Linked DNA regions of Homo sapiens. The protein of the gene in region 1 interacts with the protein of each later gene in a pairwise test. Each region holds a gene or a part of one and is shown on either strand. Other genes may lie near its edges. The genes, in order: SLC34A3 and CLRN1.

Evidence for each region.
Region 2: the proteins of SLC34A3 (region 1) and CLRN1 interact in binary tests that used the Homo sapiens proteins (3 or more experiments, as listed by UniProt).

The regions. Positions count from the first base shown.
Region 1 is NC_000009.12:137,233,901-137,237,369, reverse strand, and holds the end of SLC34A3 (sodium-dependent phosphate transport protein 2C), read right to left. Parts: coding exon 3,429-3,469; intron 3,262-3,428; coding exon 3,094-3,261; intron 2,955-3,093; coding exon 2,838-2,954; intron 2,764-2,837; coding exon 2,639-2,763; intron 2,080-2,638; coding exon of another isoform or gene 1,537-2,079; intron 1,419-1,536; coding exon 954-1,418; 3' UTR 815-953; downstream 1-814. UniProt on the Homo sapiens protein: Involved in actively transporting phosphate into cells via Na(+) cotransport in the renal brush border membrane. The cotransport has a Na(+):Pi stoichiometry of 2:1 and is electroneutral.
Region 2 is NC_000003.12:150,927,699-150,931,512, reverse strand, and holds part of CLRN1 (clarin-1), read left to right. Parts: intron 1-3,311; coding exon 3,312-3,577; 3' UTR 3,578-3,814. UniProt on the Homo sapiens protein: May have a role in the excitatory ribbon synapse junctions between hair cells and cochlear ganglion cells and presumably also in analogous synapses within the retina.

The DNA.
Region 1 (3,469 bases):
CTTCCCTTGGCGGGAGTGGGGGTTGGGTTAGGGCTGTGGGCAGCTCTGGGCTAGAGGTGGCAGGAGCCCCCCCTCAACTTCCTAGGTGTCCAGTTACCCATTGGCTGGCAGACAAGCCTTCCTGTGTGGAAACCCGACCACACAGCAGAGGGAGGGCCCCCTGGCCCCCAAGTCCTCCCCATGGGTGCTGTCCGCCCTCCTGGGCCCACCCCACGGACAGGCCTTCCCGGGACAGGGTCTCATTCTCCGTGGCAGTGGGAGGCCTCAGTGTGCCCCAGCCTGGCGGGTGAGACTGGCTTCCTGGTGGGTTCTGGGAGCTGAGCACCTGCCGTGGCCCAGCCCTGCAGAGAAGTGTCCCCGAGGGGCCCAGCCCAGGACCGGCTGAGAGACACAGAGGGCAGACAGACAGGTGGTGCCTCTGGGACCACCTGGCCCTCCAAGCCGTCAGGGTCCCTTCTCACACCCCACGCACCTGATGGGACTCCAGTCCCCACCCCAACCATGACATCCGCCGGGGCAGAGGAGCTCCGGGATCCCCCACACCCTGCACCACCGGCCCTGCTCCCTGCTGGCTGGGCTCTCCCCTGCGCCCCCAGGAGGGGCCCCAGCTCCCACTGTGGGAAGTCCCCGCCCCCCCAGGCCCGCCATTCCTTGGGAGCTTCTGTCCCCAGCGGCTGCCGTGAGAAACACACCTTGGGGTGGGCGGGCTCCTGTGCCTGAGCCCCAGGCCCCGGAGTGTCCACCAGGAGGCAGCATCGGGCTGCTTCCCCCACCTGCGCAGGCGGCCCCTGTCTAGGGGAGTGAGGACCGCCACCCCAGATAACAGCCTGGTTTATTTGCACAGAAGGGGAAGCAGGTGACCGGAGGTCAGCTGCCGCGGGGACCCCCCCTCCAGGGCCCTCCAGAGCCCTCCCAGCCGGGGAGGGTGGGGCGGTCTGCTCAGCAACTGCCCGTCACAACTGCTGGGAGGCCAAGATCTCAGGGTTCTCGTAGCAGTAGGCCTCTTTGGTGGTGGCCTTCGGGGGGCTGCAGACGTTGCAGGGGCAGCAGCGGGTCACCAGGCGGTCCCAGGGCTCCAGAGAATGGAGCCAGACGGGGAGCCAGGCCCAGGAGCGCAGGCGGACAGGCAGCCAGGCCGGCCGGCGCCGCTGCAGGACAGTAACCAGGATGACGAGGAGCACCAGCCCCACCAGGGGACCCCCGACAGCGGCCAGCTCCATGCCCCCTGCCAGGGAGAGCCCGAAGGCCGCCAGGGGCAGCAGCAGGAATCCGAGCAGCAGGTAGACCCCAGCCACCCAGCGGTAACGGGCGGTCACCACCCCGAAGTGCCTGGCCAGCGGGATGGGCAGCCGCAGTGCAGGCACCAGGTACCACAGCAGGATGCCGGCCAGGTTGAAGAAGAAGTGGATGAGGGCGACCTGGGGGCGAGGGGGCTGTCAGGGGCCTGGGCCCAACGAGGTGGGGTCACCAGGGGCCCCGGACCCCTGCCCTCCTCCACCCTACAGAAGGAGCGCCAAGTCTGAAGTTCATCCTGCTTCACGGATGAGATGGCCGTCTGGGAGGCGGGCTGTGGCCAGATGTGGACATGTTCCCCAGCACGCCTCCCGCACGCTCCTGGGAGCTGCAGTCCAGCCCAGCACCCCCGAGCACTGACTGCATCACTGCTGCCCTCAAGGGGGACCTGCGGGGGAAGCACCTTCCGACCTGGCTCTGCCTGTGCCTCCTGCCAAGAGACCCCGTCTCCTCAGTCCCCAGTGTGCTGAGCCTGCACAGTCCAGGCCCTGCGGGGAGGAGGCACAGGGCCACAGGAGGGGAGAACAGTGTCACGGGCCCCTCCAGGGGCTGCCGGACTTGGAGGAGTCCACACACAGGTGCAGTCTGGAGGGCTTCCTGCAGGGGGTGGAGCAGGACCCTGCACTGGGAGGGTCTAAGTGGATAGAGACAGGGCAGAGGCAAGAAGAACGAGCGTGGGTTCCAGGGGGTGCCGCACTTGTCTCTTCCTGTCAGCGGCGGTGCAGCATGACCCGGAGTTTCGGGAGCTGAACCTGTTGGGCCTCCGGGCAGCAGGCCGCAGACGGGCTGTTTTAGAGGGAGAACCAGCTGGACTAAATGAGACTGGGGTTGGGGCACAGAGCTGGGGGCTCAGACTGGGGGAAGTGTCCTGGAGGCAGAATCACAGCCCTGGCAGCGGCAGGGCAGGGCCCAGCATCGGTGGGACTCGGCCTTTGCAGATGTGGAATGGGGGCTGGGAGGGTCGTCCAGATGGGGACCTGCTGGAGGTGAGTGGCTGCTCCTTGAGGGAGCAGGGGTTGGGGGAAAGCATCTGAGGGTGCTGGAATAGAGGGGCTTAGAGCCCCCTGAGATGCTGGGGGCAGGCCCCCAGGGACACAGCAAAGAGCTGAGAAAATGTGGAAGTGAGGAGGTCTCAAGGGAGGAGACGCAGGGAGGGTGTGAAATGTGTGCAGGACCTGTGGGGTCCAAGGAGGCAGAGCAGCAGGGCTGAGGCTGGCGGCCAGGGAAGGGGTCCAGGAAGGCGGGGGCACAGCCAGCCTAGGGCCCCGGGGCTGGTGACACACTCCTGTCTGTGGGGCTGAGAGGAAGCTGGCCAGTTCTGGCAGCGGGGCAGGGTGGACAGTACCTGCAGGGCGCTGAGCATCCTGTCTGCGGGGCTGGCCAGGGCAGCCAGCAGGGCTGTGGTAGTGGTGCCGATGTTGGAGCCCAGTAAGAGGGGGTACGCCCGGTCCAGACTGATCACCCCGACCCCTGGGGGAACTGGGAGTCACCACAGGACCCCAGCCCGAGCCCCCGTTCCCGAGGCCTCTGTCCTGCCTGCTCACCCATGAGGGGCACGACGGCCGCCGTGAAGACGCTGCTGCTCTGCAGTGCGAAGGTCAGGCCGGCGCCCGCGAGGACGGCCAGGTAGCCGCCGAGCCAGCCCAGCGGGAAGGGGAAGTCTGTGGGGGATGCCGGGTCAGCCCTGGCCAGCGCCCACAAGGAGGGCCAGGTAGCCCCCGAGTCAGCCTGGTGGGAAGGGGAAGTCTATGGGGGATGCTGGGTCAGCCCTGGCCACCGCACCTCCTCCCACGCCCTCACCCGCATTGATGACTGTCCTCACGACCTGGGCCACGCGGCCGCGCAGCACAGAGTTGAGCAGCTTGACTATGAGGACCAGGCAGCCGCAGAGCACCAGCAGGGAGCCGGCCAGCAGGATGCAGCCCACGGCCAGGTCCGTGAGCTCCGTGCCCGCAAACAGGTGGCGGCCTGGGGGCAGGGCAGGGGCAGGTGAGGGGGAGCCTGGGGGGTGGGCCGGGGTGGGCCGGGCCTCACAGGGCAGCCTGTCCGCCGGGGCTGTGCTGTTCCTCTCCATGTAGGGGCCGGTGAGGGGGAGTGTGGGGGGTGTAGGGGGCTTGGGGTGGGCCGGGCCTCACAGGGCAGCCTGTCCGCCGGGGCTGTGCTGTTCTTCTCTGTG
Region 2 (3,814 bases), on another chromosome or scaffold:
GGGCTATTTACGAAGTCAATTCCGGGGTCCCAGGAGTATGGACTAAAATGTGAGTCAGGCATGCCAGATGGGTATGTTCTATTGACTTCAAGGATTCCTCATGCTGTGGGAAGGAACCTCTCCAGAAGAGAGACAGAGCAGAACCCTCTAAATGTGGGGCACAAAGCAGGAGCCCCTCTTGCTGGATTCAAAGGGTCATACTGGAAGAGTGTAGGTTGAGTCTTATTCTCACATCACTCATATCACTTACACACTTCTTTTATAGCCTTAGCAGCCATGCCACAAAGAGAAACTCTTCATGCATATCTTTTGGTCCATAAGTCATAAATAGTTATCCTTGATCCCATGTCTTTTTTAGAGCCATGGACAGAGAGAAGCAAAAATATACCAAGTTCACACTGAGTTGTCTCCCTTCATATCTCTTAGCAGTCACTGAAAGGTTATGAGACTCAGGCTGGGTTTCTATCCTCTGTCCCTGAAACGACAACGTTGACCTCGTGATCAACCCTAGAATCCAGAGCAAGATCTCAGACTGTCCTCTCTACTACCAGACAGCACACTTTGTTTTGGGGGCTGTGTGCTTGAAATATTAGCTATGGCAAAAGGCTTTGAGTCTTATGACACCCCAAGTAACTTTTACTTTAGGAATTTGAAATACAGCCTTGCTGTAATGCTGTCTCCTTAACAAAGCAGTACCTTTGAAATATTTAACAACTTGAAAAGGAAACCGAGCTTGAATTTTCCTTTCAGGTGCTCAGGAAATAATGTTTCACTTCTGTCTGAAATTCACCATCTCCTCAGACAAAGAAGGCTCTTATGGTAAAAGGAATGGCATTTTCTCCACAATTTTCGAATAAAAGATAAAGAGAAAACAGCACTGCAGCCTTTTTGTTAGGATCTAACAATAAAGAAATAATACGGTTTTGCCAGGGGAGAGCTCTGGTTTTAAGCTCAGAATACAAAAATAGGCTGACAAAATTTTACAAAGGAATATTCTCAGCTACCACTCTGAGGATGGTAGAAAGTGAAATTTCAAGAAAATTATATTATTTGATTATTTGATGATGATTAAGCTGATTGGCCAGTCCTATGTGAAATTCTAAAGTAGAAGAAATGTGATGTTGTCTTTTCTGCTCACCTCTCCCCTCATTCCTACCCCCAAATCTCTGCCTCTACCCCAAACCCAGCCTGACCTTTGGGAAAGGAATGGGGGCTGTCACTTGCACCGTAGCTCCTCCTGCCTGCAGTACTCTCCCCCCACAGTCCAGCCTCCCTCTGCTCAGCTAACTTTTCCTATAGCTCCTTCTGGCTACTTCTAAGGAACCTTCCATAATGCTGCCCACCCTCTCAGTAACAGCCCCTCTACTATCCCTTGATTACATGCACTGTAATTGGTTAGTAATTGATTTTATGTCCTCTGCCAAATTATACTCCATGAGAGCAAAAATCATGAGTATTATCTTTAATGTTTAAATCTCCACAACTATCCCCCATATAAGTCTAGAGAATAAATGAATGAGTGAATTAATGAATAGAAACTCAAGCCATTATGTTGCCACTCCTAGGATATTTGGATTAACTTTAACTGAAGAGTAAAAAGCATTTACCTGTCCTAAAGGAGACATAAAATTAGTGGGAGAGTATTTGGAGAAAAAAAAGACACTGTAATACATTCTTTTGTGTTGCCTACCCTGATGTAGTCAGGTGTCCCTGATATGGGGTGGGCTGAGGATTTGAAATAAAATACCTAATTTGACATTGTAAGTGGAGGAATCAGGATTTGAAACCAAATTGGTTTGACCTAAATCAAGCTATTATGATAAGGACTTGCAAGAAAAAAGGAATCCATAAAAACCATATGAATAGCTACCAATTAGTAAGCATTTATATGTGTCAATTACAAAGCCAAATGCAAATCATGCTTTATTTATATTAGCCACCTTTTATAGATGAAGAAATTGAGACCTGAATATTAAAATTGCCTACTTTTACATAGTAAGTAAAGGAATCAGGGTTTGAACCCAAATTGGTTTCACCTAAGGTAGAAAACCATCCCAGCAAGTCTCCTATTAACTGGAACCCTATTGTGGTGGCCTGAGATATAACAGTAGCTGTGGAAGCGCTGTAGAGTCCTGGCCATCCTATGTGCTCCTGATCTGGTCCCTCCTGCCACCTGCTTCTGCTCCCTGTGCCATCCACCCATCTGGAAGTCTCCCAGTGTCCATCTTCGGGGGAGACACTCACCAGAGTTTCCAGCTTCCAGCCAGTATGGAGTGCCCCTGTCCCACAGCAATCTCACCGAAATCACAGCTACATCTGTTAAAATTAGGCTACCAATGAGTGATAGATGAGGGGGAAAAATAATAATAGTGTACTAAACAAAACAAATGTTTATTTTTCTCACACATAAAAATCTAGAGGTTGAAGTCCAGGGCTGGTCCAGAGGCTCCAAGGATCTGGGATTTAGACTCCCTCTTTCTTGTTTTTCCACAGCATATGGCTTCCATTTCTGGGGCCACATTGGTCCAAAATGTATGCTGGGGCTCCAGCCATTGCATCCATATTTCAGCCACAGGAAGGAGGAAGTGGGGAAGAAAGGACAGGCCCCTAATACCTGTATAGTTCAAGAAGACTATCCCGCCCATACTTCCCAACCACCCTTAGTTGAACAATGCTGTCTTAATTCAAGACACTCACATGTCTAGCCAAAAATCTGAATTCTGTTACAAACAAGGAGAATAGAGATGTGCGCCACCTCAATACCTCATCCATAGCTACCTTTTCCTTTGTGCAGCTGTGGCCAAGTGAAAGCTGAAGGAGCTGTGGTAACCCTTCTGAAGGGAGGCTGGGGCCTTTCACAAGAGGCTGCATGATTGACATTTATCCTGCATGGCCTGTGAAGTACAGAGAAATATTTTCTCTTGAAGCCACATCATAGCAGTGGCTGCTTTGTAGCCTGATTCCACCATTATGCCTTTAAAGTGCCTAGCAATTCAGCCTTCACATCATGCAAAGAGGAATATCTCCCAGTCTTTGTAAGATCAGCTTAATTCTAACCACCTCCTTACCTCCCACTGCACTCCTACACGCACACACAAATCTTCTTCACTCAGAGCAGAACCATAACCCAAGCCCTACCACCTAGAGACTGAAGAATCAGGCTCATGATTACAAATATGCAATAATTTTTTGTGTGGATAATGTCAATGGGGATGATGGTAAGAGAATTCCTTGGTTTACACATTGACCCTCTTCCCTGTCCCTTACAATCAGGAAATATTTGTCCCAACACCTTGTTTCTTCTGTTGCAGGCTCCTGTGGCTGTCTTGTCATGATATTGTTTGCCTCTGAAGTGAAAATCCATCACCTCTCAGAAAAAATTGCAAATTATAAAGAAGGGACTTATGTCTACAAAACGCAAAGTGAAAAATATACCACCTCATTCTGGGTCATTTTCTTTTGCTTTTTTGTTCATTTTCTGAATGGGCTCCTAATACGACTTGCTGGATTTCAGTTCCCTTTTGCAAAATCTAAAGACGCAGAAACAACTAATGTAGCTGCAGATCTAATGTACTGAAAGGCAAACCTTTCTATAATTTTACAAGGGAGTAGACTTGCTTTGGTCACTTTTAGATGTGGTTAATTTTGCATATCCTTTTAGTCTGCATATATTAAAGCATCAGGACCCTTCGTGACAATGTTTACAAATTACGTACTAAGGATACAGGCTGGAAAGTAAGGGAAGCAGAAGGAAGGCTTTGAAAAGTTGTTTTATCTGGTGGGAAATTGCTTGACCCAGGTAGTCAAAGGCAGT